2 separate regions of the Homo sapiens genome follow, and region 1 is linked to region 2. Evidence: fine-mapped expression QTL. Tissue or cell type: whole blood. Region 2 holds a variant in brackets; the other region holds the start of a gene. All regions are shown on one strand. Distances are from middle to middle.

Region 1 (8,000 bases), 57 kb before region 2:
CCTTATGAGTCAGGCAAGGCAGGGGAGATGGGAAGTCATAGGAACAAAGCATCTGTATCTTAGAATAATGGCTTGTTTATATAAGTCACTTACATTACAAAATTATCCTTCACTGTATTTTATGGGAGAAAGTTACATGTTCAAGTTGGGTAAAGGTAAAAGTCACAAGACATAATCCACAATATTAGCAAAGATCTACACGATAAATGCAACACTTATGTGGCTTACCCTGATCCTTTGGAAGCAAATAGTACACTGCAATAAATGCCTTGATGGCAGCATGGACTTGTTCACAGAACTTCTGGGTTTCCTATGAAAAAGGAAACAGATTAGATCAAAGTGGTCAACCCTTCTGCTGTGGAATAGAGCAGATATTTCTTTTCTTTTTCTTTTCTTTCTTTTTCTTTTTTTTTTTTTTTTTTTTTTTTTTTGAGACAGAGTCTCACTCTGTCACCCAGGCTGGAGTGCAATGGCGCAATCTTGGCTCACTGCAACCTCCACCTCCCAGGTTCAAGCAGTTCTCCTGCCTCAGCCTCCCAAGTAGCTGGGATTACAGGCACCCGCCACCACACCCAGCTAATTTTTTGTATTTTTAGTAGAGATGGGGTTTTGCCACACTGGCCACACTGGTCTCGAACTCCTGACCTCAGGTGATCCACCTCCCTTGGCCTCCCAAAGTGCTGAGATTACAGGTGTAAGCCACTGCACCCGGCCTAGGGCAGATATTTCTACAGCATCATCAAACATTTTCTGAAGTCCTGGTATGAAGGCAGGCCTACTATACTCATCACATACCAGGGAGGAGTTAGCTATATAGTAGATATTGGGCTGACAACTCAATAAACCATTAAGAAACAGCAGGAAAAAACTTATTCCTGATACTCTGTATCCCAAGATATTCATGATATCTTAGACCAGGAGCTGGCAAACTGTGGTCCTCAGGCCAAGTCAGGCCCCACTGCCTGTTTTTGGAAATGAAGTGTATTGGGACACAGCCATACTCACTGGTTTTAATGTCTGTAGTTGTGTTTGCTCTATAAGGGCAGAGTTGGGTAGTTGGTTACAAAATCTAAAATATTTACTAACTGGCCCTTTACAGAAAAGAGAGGGAGGGAGAGAGACAGACAGACCAACTGACAGACCATGGTTATTAAACCATTAACCAGGTCTCTCTCTTTTTTTAACAGAATCAGAATATGTAACTAAAGGTAACTAGCATGGACTCGACAATGCTCCATGTTAACTATTTTCCTTCTAGGTGGTCACTGGCTTTCTCATCTTCCTTGTCCTCAATTTTCTGTTAAATTCTAAGTCAATACTATACAAATGTGGTCCAGGTTGGAGCCAGTCTACAAACTGTTTGTGACCAGTCAGGGATGAGATAAGCAGTGACTGAGAGTGTTTAGAAACTTTTATGGCAATTTGACATTTATTCAACATCCGAGCACATAATTTTATTAAAGTATCATTCCATACAGATTGGAATTTAAAAAACAACAACAACAACAAAAAAAAACCAACAACCACCCATCTTTTAGTAGGACTAAAGTGGTGAGATCTCAAGAAGGCAATGATGATTCATGTGTATGTATGTGTGTATATACACACATATATACATATATGTATTTATTTGAATATATGTATATACTTGAATATTTGTATATATTTCAAATAAATCCAAATTCTAACTTTTCATCTATGAGTGAAACTACTGTCCTGAGCATGTATAGAAAATCAGTTCTATGCTGCCTCCTTGTGGTATCTTACTTGCAGTGAGTTTTAGCAGCAAGTCCTAAGTGCATTTGAAAGAAAGGGGTTAGCAGATAAGAAAAATAAGGTAATATTAACTACTCTTTTTGAAATAAGTATTTTCCATGAATCTTTTGAAGTGCTCTCATACAATTCATCTCTTGTTTCCTCATCACAAATCTCAAAGGTAGGCCAGGCACGGTGGCTCACACCTGTAATCCCAACACTGTGGGAGGCCAAGGCAGGCGGATCACTTGAGGTCAGGAGTTCGAGACTAGCCTGCCCAACATGGTGAAACCCCGTCTCAACTAAAAATACAAAAATTAGCCAGGCGTGGTGACAGGTGCCTGTAATCCCAGCTACTCGAGAGGCTGAGGCAGGAGAACTGCTTGAACCCGGTAGGCAGAGGATGCAGTGAGCCCAGACTGTGCCACTGCACTCCAGCCTGAGTGACAGAGAGAGACTCTGTCTCAAAAAAAAAAAAAAAATCTCAAAGGTATGTAGGAGGAGAGAGTTTATCACTGTAGGTACATGCAGCAGAAGATATTTATATCCTTTCCAAACACCTATATATGTAGACTGAAAAATTAAAACAATTGACTATGAAAATCAAATAAGGCAATGAATATGCCATTTTAAAAGAATCTTACTCCTATATTAAGCATACACAACTCTAGAAAAACTGAGCATAGAGCATACGTGGTCATAGCCAACATGTTTACTTTCATTAGTTTTATAATAAAGGAATATTTAAAATGCATAAATCTTTGTTCTAGCAATTCTACTTCCGGGAATTTTTTCTACCAATATACACACATACACAGAATTAGGTAATTCATCACGACACTGTTTGCAGTAATTCTAAGTTGGAAGGTCCAGAACAGTGTTTATGTATCATTTGTGTAAAAAGAAGCTGACACATACAGATAAATGTATATGAATGTATATATGCACAGAATATACGTGGAATAATGCAAAAGGAACTGGGGGAGACAAAAATGAGAAAGTGGGTGGAAAGGTAAACTTAACACACTTTGATATCTGTTGAATTTTGTACTATCTACATATGTTACTGATTAAATATAAAAAATAATATAAAAAGGGTATTATGCAGTATAACAGAATAGGTAGCTTAGACATCAGATAGACCTTGATTTAAATTCTAGCCCCCCTGCTTTTTTTTAAATCTTAAGCTGAGCTTCTGAGCCTCCTTGCTCATCTGTCAGATGGCCATCAAGTATGTGAAAACACCCAGCAAATAAAAAGTGCTTAAAAAATTATCAGAAGGGAAACAACCAGGATAAACTTCAGACTGAACCAATATTTATAAGACCTGCCTACTCCGCGCCAGGAACTGCACTTGGCAATTCGGTCTTCACAACAATCCTGTGAAGTAAAAACGGTAACCTCACTGGACAGATGAAGAAAAGAAATCTCCTGGCGTGCGTGCAAAAGGTGGAAAGAAAATTAGAGGATTCCTAAGGTGTAACTCGGCAGCCCAAGGATTCCACGAAAGTGAAGCCCACCTGTGGAGACGGCAGTGGAAGCTGAGAGAAGACTATGGTCAGAGTCGTGGCTTCCCTTGACACAGTCACAGCTGCCTCATCTGGGGGGTGGCCGAAGAGGAGGCAGGTGCCAATACGTTAGTGCTGCACGGACTTGGAAGACTTCCCTTACCGACCGAGACTTCTCAAAAACACTTCCCGAATGTCGAGGTTAGAATTCTATTTCACCCTCTCAGGTGCTGAGGTGGGTAAGGTACCTCACAGAAAGGATGCAGCGGGGGAGAGCAGTCCCCTCCGTGGGGGACAGCGGGAGGAAAAGGGGTCGGGACGCTGGAGGAACTGAGGCAAGGGGAGCCCGGAAGGAGGCGCACTCACTGAGTCTTCTCCAGAACATCTCTCGATTAAACTCCTCGGTGGTCTCCTGGGCTTCGCCGACTTGTGGGTGTGGCGTGTGGGGGCCGAACGGTGGCGAATGGAAAAGCTGAGGTAAGCGGAGCCACCTCCCTCGCCCAAGCCCGGCTCCCCGCCGCCGCCCCAGCCCGCCCTCTCCGCGACCCCGAGCCCGGCCTCTCCCCGACCCCGAGCCCGGCCTCTCCCCGACCCCGAGCCCGCCCCTGCCGTCGCCCGTTCTAACTCCGTCAGCTCACCCCGCACTCGAGGCAGGAGCAACCGCAGCTCCTCCGCCAAGTGCCGGAGCTGCTCCAAAGGCGAAGCCAGGGTGGGGACTGCGGCTGCAGGTGCAGTTGCGCTCGCCATCTCAGTCGCTTGCCGAAGGCCGCAAACACAGGCCTCCGCTGCCACTGCCGGAGCCGCACTGCGACAGCCGCTCCACTTCCGGGCCACAGCGTCAAGGGCTCGTTTCCGTCAACAAGCCGTCCAGCCCCGTCCCAGAGGCCCTGCCCTGCCTCCTCCCGCCACGAGGCCCGGCCCCGCCCGAGGTCCAGCACCACCCATCCCGTTATCAGAGACCAGGCCTGGCCCCGCCTCCTCCCGCCCCGCCCTGTCCCCTGAGGTACAGCACCAACCATCCCACTCTCAGAGGCCAGGACAGGCCACGCCTTCTCTTGCCCCTTAGGCCAGGCTACACAAGCAAGCCTCAGGCTCACCGTCTTTCTTATTCATCATTCATTCATTTATTTGATTAGTTGAAAACACTTCCGACTAAGGAAGCAGAGAGCCCACAATCCTGTGGGAAAACAGGCCTGGGAACTAATATCTCAGGGGTAGTGAGGGTCGGGCCCAGATCCTCAAAGGTTCCCTGCCCCTGAAATTGCACCTTTGACAGCTGCTGAATTCCAAGCACAGCGGTAAGTGCTTTACATGGGGTAACCCTAAAAAACACACTGGGCCTCAGACACTCCCGTACACACACCCAACCTCTACCCTGTGGATGTCCTAGATAAGGGTTTTCTCTTCACAAAGGTAAATCAACTCTTTGCCTCCTTAGGGAGGGAAGGAATAAAGGCATTATTTTTGAGACTTTTCTGCAGTCCATTCTGCAGGTATCAGTAGTGGGTAATCCCTCCAACGTCCAGGACTCCAAACGAGCAGCTGCTCCCTAAAGCTCACCCACCAATCCTGGCCCTCCACCTGCTACTGGGGTAGAGGCCTGGGCTACAGACACAGAGGCTGGGCTTCTGCCCAGCTGCCAGTGGTGAGACATGGCCTTCAGGAGCTCAGGTGGCTTTTTAACTGCACCATGAAGATTCCAAACTTGGTGGAGTTCAGTGTCCACACATAACGAATGAGAACAGGTGTCAGCAGTGTCAACCAGGTCCGCAAAGGGGAGAATAAAAAAGCTAGGGTGCCGTATGTTGCATAAAGAAAGTAGCAGGAATAAACCTGCCAGATGTACAGCAGTAGCATAAGTAGGTGAACAGGCATAATTTTCAAGTATTTTCTTTGATGGAGATGAGACCTGAAGTTGTGACCAAAGCACCGCTGCAGCAAGCTCCAACACATGTAAGCCATCAAGGGGATGTTAAAAAACGCCAGCTGGAAAAGAACAGAACCATAGCTTACTCCCAAGTCCTTGGAAGAGTTTGGTCTTAATAATGCATTATTAGTGGATCCTAAGACTATGCTGCTATCTGTCTTGGCGTTAGCTAATTTACTTCAAGCACAGTTGCTTATAACACAACAGCTGACTTGTGGCTAGTTGTGTATTTGCCCATGTCCTTTTATTCATCTTAGAGGCAGGTATCATTTAATTTATGCTGAAGTCCCAACTTGTAGTACAGTATCATATACACAGTTAATACCCAATGGTGTTAAGCTGGAATTGAACTGAGTAAATGTATACACACACATACAACAACCCCTCTTTTTTGGTGGAGTGAGGGGAGGACTTGGCTATCAGTATTTTTTTTCTTACCTCCATTTTTGTTTGAGGTAGCATGATAAGTACTGGAATATAAATTAGAGTATCTAAATTATAATCCAAGTTGAGCTGCTGTATGATTCATTCATTTAACAAATATTTATTGAGCACCCATTATGTAGCAGGCATGAGCTAGGCTCCAAGTTGGGGACACAATGGCAAACAAGTTAGAAAAGGTCCGTCATAGAGCTTACATTCTAACAGGGAGAAGACAGACAAAAAAAAAAACCAAAAAATATAATTACAGATCGTGATTAGTTCAATGAAGGAAAGAACTGGGTCATGAGAAGGTAACTGGGAGAAAGGCTCTCAGAGGCCAGAAGGACAAGAATGAATCAGCGGAGGGAAGTGCATTCTAGGCAGAAGGAACAAATGAAAAGCCCAGAGGTGGGAGAGGTCTTGGCCTCTTTAAGGAAGTGCATGCAGAGCATGAGCCAGGTGGAAATTGGGGCAGTCGGCAGGACCCAGATCACTGCTCTGCTTCAAAGCATTTCAAGCTGAAAAGTAAGTGAGCTGATTGTAAAGTTTTTAAAAGAGCACACTGGATGCTCTGTATTAAGCTGAGAGTAAGGAGGCAAGAATATCAGGGAGAAGACCCAGGCAAGAAATAATTACAACTTAGATTAGGAAAACAGAAATGGAGAGAAGTGGATGGATTCAAGATATGCATTGGAAGCAGATCAAATAAGGTAGAGCTTGCTGGTGAAATAGATACAGGGTATGAAGGAAAGGGAATAATTGAGGATACATCTTGGAGAAATCAGGTGAATGGTGGAGTCATTTATTAAAACTGGAAAAACAGAGAGGAACAGGTTTGGGGTGGAAATAATGTTCCTATCAGAGAGACATCACATGAAGTTGAGATGCCTGTTAGACATCTGTGGCCATTGGATATAGAGGCACTTGAAGTGCAGAGAAGAGGTCTAGATCAGAGATATAGATTTGGGATTCATGGGTCTGGATGATACATAAAATCCATTATTAGTGTACTATTTATTAGAATATGAATGTAAACATTTACAAAGGAAAAAACCCTGCCTTTTGGTAAGGCTCAGGATTCATTTGGTATGAGAGAGCTCCTTAGAGACAGCCTCCATCAACATAATAGAAAACTGCAATGAGGCTGGGTGCAGTGGCTCACGCCTGTAATCCCAGCACTTTGGGAGGCCGAGACGGGCGGATCACCTGAGGTCAGGAGTTCGAGACCATCCTGGCCAACACAGTGAAACCCTGTCTCTACTAAAAATACAAAAATTAGCCGGGCATGGTGGCAGGCACCTGTAACCCCAGCTACATGGGAGGCTGAGGCAGGAGAATCACTTGAATTAGGGAGGCAGAGGTTGCAGTGAGCCGAGACGATGCCATTGCACTCCAGCCTGGACGACAAGATCGAGACTCCATCTCAAAAAAAAAAAAAAAAAGAAAAGAAAAGAAAAGAAAACTGAAATGAACCCAGGACCTACTCATGTATATAATGCTGCTATGCAGAGAATATTCTGGACTTGGGTCAGTGTTTGCTAGGCAGAAGTCTTTCCTACTTGGCTGTCTCTAATCCTGTTGGATCATGTTCTACTGCCCTGTTAGAAGGCCATGAACTTATTTTGAATGTTTTTGGATCTCTTCCAAAACTTCAAATTTTGGTCCACTAACTCCATTAGGTGAGTAAAATAAAGAAACTGTTAGATAAATACTTTTCAAATCTGTTTATGTAGTTTTTCTATGGATCAAGGTTCTTTGTGTGTTTATTTTAAAGGAATCAAATGTAAACCTAATACATCAGTTTGTTTCCTAAACAAGTACATTGCTAGGAAAGCCCAGGTCTGGTTTTTGAATAATGCAGTTTCCACTGAATAACTGACCCATTTTTTTAATGTGTCTATTTTTTAGTTTCCTCCCTCTAAAATATTTTCCTTCTTCATCATCATAATCAGTTTTGGTTTACTCAGAAATCTAAAACTTTTTCTACCATAATCCCTTGTTTCATTTTTTTGTCAATGAAAAAGCACAGTGAAACAAAAACAACAAAAACTTCTTTCACCTCTTATAAACACTTCATGACAAAAATGTATTTTAGGCTAGGCATGGTGGCTCACGCCTATAATCCTAGCACTTTCGGAGGCCAAGGCAGGTGAATCATCTGAGGTCAGGAGTTCGAGACCAGCCTGGCCAACATGGTGAAACCCTGTCTCTACTAAAAGTGCAAAAATTAGCCAGGCATGGTGGCACATGCCTGTAATCCCAGCTACCCAGGAGGCTGAGGCAGGAAAATCGCTGGAACCCAAGAGGTGGAGGCTGCAGTGAGCCAAGATTGCACCACTGTGCTTCAGCCTGGGCGACAGCAGAACACTGTCTTGGGGAAAAAAAAA
Region 2 (8,265 bases):
TTTAATTGTTTATTATATATTGCTGTTCTGAGTAATTTTTTTCACGTCTTCCCTTTATTGAAAAAAATTTTAGAAAATGGCAGTTAATAAAAGGCACAAACAAATCAACAGGGATATACTAGTGGAAAACACAATATAAAACTAACATGTCATTGGCTTCTTTAATTGGTTAAGAGCACAAAATGTAACAGGCAAAAGGTCTGTTTCAAACAAATTAAAAAGCTATGTGTTTTTTAAATTCTCCCCAAATCAGATATATACACACCCACAAAAATAGTGTGTGAAGGAAAACTGTCATACACAAGAAGTCGTATCCTGAATTCTTCAAGGAAATACATGTGGAAATAGGAATTAACAGAGTCAGCAACAGATTAATTTTTTATTAATTGAGTCTTAAAATGCTACATAGCCCAAAGCTATACTATATAAAGTACTACTAGGTACAAAGGAAAGTCTGTACAGCTTTTAGCAAAACTGCTTTCCCAGAAAAGCAAATTAAAATAATGCAATCAGCAGACCCAGGAGACTACAGCTAGACATCAGAGCTACAACTTCTCATATCTCTCTCAGAAAATCCTATTTATCCAGAACAGACTAAAATTTCAGGACAAAACAGGGATTTTTAAACTTTTTTTACTTTATCCATTTTAAATTCTTTTTATCTCCCCCACCCCACAAACCAGTAATTCAGCAAGATCCAACAGAAAGAGGGCTACTTTTAGAATTGGCTATTTTATTTTTCTTTTTTTTTTTTTTTTTTTTTGAGACGGAGTCTCGCTCTGTCGCCCAGGCTGGAGCGCAGTGGCACGATCTCGACTCACTGCAAGCTCCACCTCCCAGGTTCAGGCCATTCTCCTGCCTCAGCCTCCCCAGTAGCTGGGACTATAGGCACGTGCCACCATACCTGGATAATTTTTTGTATTTTTTAGTAGAGACGGGGTTTCACCGTGTTAGCCAGGATGGTCTTGATCTCCTGACCTTGTGATCTGCCCGCCTCGGCCTCCCAAAGTGCTGGGATTATAGGCGTGAACTACCGCACCCGGCCTTATTTTTCTTTCTACGGCGAGACTGTCATGGAGCTTGGATATTTCAGGCTCATGTGCATCCATGACCAGTGTCCCACTGTGGTCAAAAAACTTAGCAATGGACTTGGTGAATTCGGCTTCCCGCTGCTGCTTTGTTCTCCCACTGATGAAGGTCAGCTTAGAGGTGTATTTGTCATCAAACCTTTTAAGACTGGAGGACAGTTGCCAAATATCATCAGGATCCATTCCTATAGGATCTTTCCTGTGGGCCACAAGAAAGATGCTCCTCTCCTTATATGAGGTATAAATGGTCAAAATCCCCATCATCATAAAATAGGATATGACGCACAAAGCCAAAATGGGTTTGGACTATGGAAAGGGGTGCATATAATCCCAAATCAAAGCCACTATGGCAAAGAAACAGGAGATTGTACAGATGGTAAGGCGACCATCAATGAGACCAAAATTCTCCACATATTTGTATTTTTCCAGAAGTAACTTTTTGGCAGAATCATCCAAAGAGTTTTTCACAGCTAATCCATCCCACTTGTCAATTTTTACAGGCTTATCATCTGTCTTCCACTTATCCAACAAGCTGCTATGGCCACTGCCTGTGCCGCACCTGGAACCACCGCCAGCCCCACTACTGCCTCCACTACCACTGGTTCTCCCACCCTGATCAGCTGCTTGCTGCTGCCATCTTATCCGCTTCTGCCTGTTCTGAGTAAATGTATACACGTGTGTGTGTGTGTATATATATATATATATATATATGTTGTTTTTTTTTTTTTTTTTTTTTTTTTTGAGACAGAGTCTCGCTCTGCCACCCAGGCCAGAGTGCAGTGGCGCCATCTCTGCTCACTGCAAGCTCCACCTCCCGGGTTCATGCCATTCTCCTGCCTCAGCCTCCTGAGTAGCTGGGACTACAGGCACCCGCCACCATGCCCGGCTAATTTTTTGTATTTTTAGTAGAGACGGGTTTTCACCATGTTAGCCAGGATGGTCTCAATCTCCTGACCTCGTGATCCACCCGCCTTGGCCTCCCAAAGTGCTGGGATTACAGGCATAAGCCACTGCGCCTGGCTGAGTGAATATTTTTACACAAGTAGTGCTCTTTAAAAAAAACTCCCTTTGAGTTTTTTCCTTGGGGCATGTTGTCAGTATTGGATTTATGCCAATTTCAATTAAATTGAATTTTCAATTTAAAATTTTCAATTAAATTTTGGAGTACCTTTGGAATAGAATACATTGATCTAATCAGAAAACATAAAGAAACATAAAGGTAAGTAGGCAAAGAGCTATAGTTCATTATCTTAAGAGCTTATGTAGGAGAGAGACATACATAAGTAAGTTTAATATATGAAGAATATGCTTTTTGCCACAAGAGATGACCAGATATAAAAGGCAGGGGGAAGGTTAAAACTAGGAGAGAGAAGCTGGGCACGGTGGCTCACGTCTGTAATCCCAGCACTTTGGGAGGCTGAGGCGTGCAGATCACCAGGTCAGGAGATCCAGACCATCCTGGCTAACACGGTGAAAGCCCGTCTCTAATAAAAATACAAAAAAATTAGCCAGGCATGGTGGCACGTGCTTGTAGTCCCAGCTACTCGGGAGGCTGAGGCAGGAGAATCACTTGAACCCATTAGGTGGAGGTTGCAGTGAGCTGAGATTGGACCACTGCACTCCAGACTGAGTGACAGAGCAAGATACTGTCTCAAACACCACCACCAACAACAACAAAAGCAACAACAAACTAGGAGACAGTACATCTTTGGAAAGAATCAAGAAAAGTTTAATTATGGAGGCCACATATAAAGGATGGGTAATATTTCTTGACTGGCAGAGATTGAGGTTGGGGTGGGTAAAAGCACTTTGCACTAAGACCTAACAACACGAACCAAAGCATTAAGATGAGAAAATGCAGGGCATGTTGCAGGGACAGTGAGTGTTTCAGTTTGGCTAGGCTATGCCAAGAGGAATAATGGTAATTAGACCAGACCCTTGGCTTGAGGCACATTGAGGAAGGCCTTTGTAAATGCCAAGAGTGAAGACAACAGAGTTCTGCTTTGGCAAGATGGATCTGGCAACGGCATAGAGAACTGGCTGTCCAGAGGATAGGTGTGAGAGAGAATCCTGTTGGAAGGAGATTGCAATAATCCAGGTAGTGGGGTAATTACAAAGACCTGAAGAAGAAAGATGGGAGAATACAACATTGAGATTAGAAAGGAATAATCAGATATAACAATAATTTTAAAAATAAAAACTATAGAACATGGCACCTGATTGGATATTCAAGGGAAGAAAATAAAAGTTTTGTTTTTTTTTTTAATAGTGCCAAAATGTGGAACCTAGTGACTGAGGGACCAGGGCTGTAATGTATGAATGGAGAGCATTACCCATATCAATAAAATAAAATTTTGGTTTTGGTTTTATCTAATACTACACCACTAGAAAACATGTGGAAGGATATTTTAAAACCAAATTTGGGAGACATGATTGAGATGATCTAATTTAAAACCCAAGGAATGTGGCATATGTAAAATGCATTTGCAAAAACCTTAGAGTATGGGGAACCCGCCCCCGATATTTCAACATAGGTTCTTTCTATTTTCCATAAGTGTCAGCTGGCTGAGAAATAAAGAGAAAGAGCACAAAGAGAGGAATTTTACAGCTGGGCCACCGGGGGTGACATCACATAT[C/T]GGGAGGACCATGATGCCCACCTGAGCTTCAAACCGGCAAGTTTTTTATTAAGGGTTTCAAAAGGGGAGGGAGTGTAAGGACAGGGAGTAGGTACAAAGATCACATGCTTCAAAGGGCAAAAAGCAGAACTACTAATAAGGGTCCAACAAAGATCACAATGCAAAGGGCAAAAGCAGAACTACTGATAAGGGTCTATGTTCATCGGTGCACGTATTGTCTTGATAAACATCTTAAATAACAGAAAACAGGGTTTGAGAGCAGAGAACTGGTCTGACCACTAATTTACCAGGGCAGTTTTTCCCCACCCTAGTAAGCCTGAGGGTACTGCAGGAGACCAGAGCGTATCTCAGTCCTTATCTCAACCACATGAGACAGACACTCCCAGAGCCTCCGTTTATAGACCGCCCCCCAGGAATGCATTCCTTTCCCAGGATATTAATATTAATATTTCTTGCTAGGAAAAGAATTTAGTGATATCGCTCCTACTTGCACATCCATTTACAGGCTCTCTGCAAGAAGAAAAATATGGCTCTTTTTGCCCGACCCCACAGGCAGTCAGACCTTATGGTTGTCTTCCCTTGTTGCCTAATCATCGCTGTTATTCTGTTCTGTTTCAAGGTGCACTGATTTCATATTTTTCAAACACACATGTTTTACAATCAATTTGTGCAGTTAACACAATTATCACAGTGGTCCTGAGGTGACGTATATCCTTAGCTTATGAAGATAACAGGATTAAGAGATTAAAGTAAAAACAGGCATAAGAAATTATAAAAGTATTATTTGGGAACTGATAAATGTCCATGAAATCTTTACAGTTTATGTTCCTCTGCCACGGCTCCAGCCGGTCCCTCCGTTTAGGGTCCCTGACTTCCCGTAACATTAGAGAAACCTCAAAGATACAGGAAATCATTTTCTAGAAATGGGGCACAACAAGAGGAAGAATCATGCTGTTAAAGTATTTGGACAAGGTCCAAAGTCACAAAAGCCAGCAGTCTCAATTTCAGACACTGTACTCCAACCAAGCCACTTCACTCATGGTGTTCAAAGTGAATAGGAACAGGATATTATTTATTTAATGATGGTTAATGATTCTCCAGGGAAATACTGGTTTGACCAGCTAATCACTTCAATTCAGCATAAAAGGTGTCTCAGTTCCTGACAGTCAAAGCAGAAAGGTAAATAGAGTTCTTCTTATAAAGAAAGCAGGCAGCAATTCACCATGAAAGCAAACTTACCTAGAACCAAAGTCAAGGGAGAATGTATCACTCAGACATTTTACAGTACAACGTACATTGTCACCAACAGCCATATATTGAATTAAGTGACTCTCATAAACATAAGATGCAGAAATTGTCTTTTTTTGGGCGAGGGGGGGTGGTCGGGGGGCGGAGGATAAAGTTTTGCTCTTGTTGCCCAGGCTGGAGTACAATTATGGGATCTTGGCTCACTGCAACTTCCACCTCCTGGGTTCAAGTGATTCTGCTTCAGCCTCCCAAGTAGCTGGGATTACAGGAGCCCGCCACCATGCCTGACTAATTTTTAAAAATATTTTTAGTAGAGACAGGGTTTCTTCATGTTGGCTAGGCTGGTTTCAAACTCCTGACCTCAAGTGATCCACCTGCCTTGGCCTCCCAAATTGCTAGCATCACAGGCGTGAGCCACTACACCCAGCCATAATTGTCTTCAAATCACTATCTTACTGACTTTGTTAAAAATACAAAAATATAGTATTAAATCGTTTTGTGAAGTCATTTATATAGAGAGCTAAAGTAATGTAATTAAAATAGGTTGCATATATATAAAGTTTGTTTGTTTGTTTGTTTGTTTGTTTTTTGAAACAGAGTCTAGGTCTGTCTGTCGTCCAGGCTGGAGTGCAGTGGTACAATATTGGCTCCCTGCAACCTCCGCCTCCTGGGTTCCAGCAATTCTTATGCCTCAGCCTCCCAAGTAGCTGGGATTACAGACGTGGGCCACGACGTACGGCTAATTTTTGTATTTTTTAGTAGAGACGGGGTTTCACCATGTTGGCCAGGCTCGCCTCAAACTCCTGGCCTCAAGTAATCTGCCCGCCTCGGCCTCCCAAAGTGCTGGGATTAAGATTATTTTTAATTATTTTTTTAAACTGTGGTAAAATAGGCTGAGCACAGTGGCTCACCCCTGTAATCCCAACACTTTGGGAGGCCAAGGCAGGCAGATTGCTTGAGCCCAGGAGATTGAGACCAGCCTGCACAACATGGCAAAACCCTGTCTCTACTAAAAATACAAAAAATTAGCAGGGTGTGGTGGGCGCATGCCTGTAGTCTCAGCTACCTGGGAGGCTGAGGTGGGAGGATCACCTAAACCCCGGTGATCAAGGCTGCAGTGAGCCGAAATTTTGCGCCACTGCACTCCAGCCCAAGCAATAGAGTGAGACGTTGTGTAATTCAGTGCAATTAAGTACATCCATATTGTTATGCAACCATCAGCCCTTAACATAATGGCTTCAAGGTTCATCCATGTTGTAGCATGTGCCACAATTTCCTTCCGTTTAAGGCTGAATAATATTGCATTGTATGTATAGACCACATTTTGTTTATCCATTCATCTGTTGATGGATACCTGAGTTGTTTTCCTCTTTTGGCTATTGTGTATGATGCTACAATGAACACTGGTGTGTACTAGACATTTTTAAAGCTTTTTTTTTTAACTTTAATTTTAGGTTTAGGGGTACAGGTGCAGGATTGTTATTCAGGTAAACTGCATGTCACAGGGGTTTGGTGTACAGATTATTTAGTCACCCAGATAATAAGCACAGTACCCAACAGGTTATTTTTTTTTCTGATCCTCTCCCTCCTCCTACCCTCCACCCTCAAGTAGGTCCGTGTGTGTCATTTCCCTCTTTGTGTCTATGTGTTCTCGTTGTTTAGCTCGCACTTTTAAGTGAGAACATATGGTATTTGGTTTTCTGTTCCTGCATTAGTTTGCTTAGGATAATGGTCCCCAGATCCATCCATGTTGCGGCAAAGGACATAATCTCATTCTTTTTTATGGCTGTGTAGTATTACATGGTGTATGTGTACCACATTTCCATTATCCTGTCTACAATTGATGGGCATTTAGGTTGATTCCATGTCTTTGCTATTGTGAATAGTGCTGCAGTAAATATTTGCATGCATGTGTTTTTATGGTAGGATGAACTATTTTACTTTAGGTATATACGCTTTTTAAGCTTTTGAGGGAGCACTCCTTTTATTCCTTAACAAAACAGAAATTTGGGAAGAATTTCATCTAGGTAATCAATGCTCTTTACAAGAAACCTGAAACACCTGCAAAAGTAAAAAAATCACAGATCAAGGAATTTCTGACTTATTACAACATGGATCAACCTTAAGGACATTATACTAAGTGAAATAAGCCAGTCACAAAAAGATAAACACTGTGTGATTCCACTTATATAAGGTACCTAGAGTAGTCAAATTCACAGAGACAGAAAGTGGAATGGTGGTTTGCAGAGACTGGGAGGAAGTGGGGATGGGGAGTTAATGTTTAATAGGAACACTGTTTCAGTTTTGCAAGATGAAAAAAGTCTGGAGATGGATAGTAGTGATGGTTTTACAGTATGGATGTACAATCGGCCCTCCATATCCATGGGTTCTGCATCTGTGGATTCAACCAACTGTGGATCAAAAATATTCAGGAAGGCTGGGTGTAATGGCTCGTGCCTGTAATCTGAGCACTTTGGGAGGCTGAGGTGGGCGGATCATTTGAGGTCAGGAATTCAAGGCTAGCCTGGCCAACTTGGTGAAACCCTTAGTCTCTAATAAAAATACAAAAAATTAGCTGGGCCTGGTGGTGCACACCTGTAATCCCAGATATTCAGGAGGCTGAGGCAGAAGAATAACTTGAACCCAGGGGGTGGAGGTTGCAGTGAGACAAGACTGTGCCACTGCACTCCAGGCTGGGTGACAGAGTGAGACTTTGTCTCAAAAAAAAAAAAAAATTCAGGAAAAGGCTAGACTCAGTGGCTCACACCTATAATCCCAGTGTTTTCAGAGGTCTAGGCAGGAGAATCCCTTGAGGTCAGGAATTTAAGACCAGCCTGGGCTGGTCTTAACAAAAAAATTAGCTGGCCATGGTGGTGCACCCCTGTAGTCCCAGCTACTTGAGAGGTTGAGGCAGGAGAATCACTTGAGCCCAGGAGGCGGAGGCTGTAGTGAGCCACCATCATGCCACTGCACTCCAGCCTGGGCAACAGAGCAAGACTGCATCTCAAAATAATAATAAATGTATACACTCTATTTCTCTATTTTTCTCCATTAAATGTTTATTTATTTTATTTATTTTTTTTTTTTTTGAGACAGAGTCTCGCTCTGTCGCCCAGGCTGGAGTGCGGTGGCACGATCTTGGCTCACTACAAGCTCTGCCTCCCGGTTTCATGCCATTCTCCTGCCTCAGCCTCCCGAGTAGCTGGGACTACAGGCGCCTGCCGCTGCACCTGGCTCATTTTTTTTGTATTTTTGGTAGAGACGGGGTTTCACCGTGTTAGCCAGGATGGTCT

What was found. PIP is the estimated chance that this variant, and not a neighbour inherited with it, causes the effect.
Region 1: CCNDBP1 starts here. The variant in region 2 is fine-mapped to the expression of CCNDBP1 in whole blood (TOPMed, PIP above 0.99).

The regions. Positions count from the first base shown.
Region 1 is chr15:43,181,509-43,189,508 of GRCh38, reverse strand. It overlaps CCNDBP1 (cyclin D1 binding protein 1), which reads right to left and starts at 4,106. Exons shown (of 11, transcript NM_012142.5): 1 at 3,902-4,106; 2 at 3,630-3,689; 3 at 3,276-3,355; 4 at 229-310. The coding sequence starts at 4,010. It overlaps TMEM62 (transmembrane protein 62), which reads right to left. Exons shown (of 14, transcript NM_024956.4): 14 at 4,365-5,249. The coding sequence ends at 4,923. LOC124903478 (a long non-coding RNA gene) reads left to right here and starts at 3,622. Exons shown (of 2, transcript XR_007064604.1): 1 at 3,622-3,740. RefSeq lists an enhancer at 3,501-3,600 and silencers at 3,771-3,860, 4,081-4,380.
Region 2 is chr15:43,124,466-43,132,730 of GRCh38, reverse strand. It overlaps the pseudogene SPCS2P1. Among named protein-coding and RNA genes, the nearest start is that of TMEM62, 5.0 kb to the left of the region's middle. The variant C/T (reference allele first, on the strand shown) is at 3,725.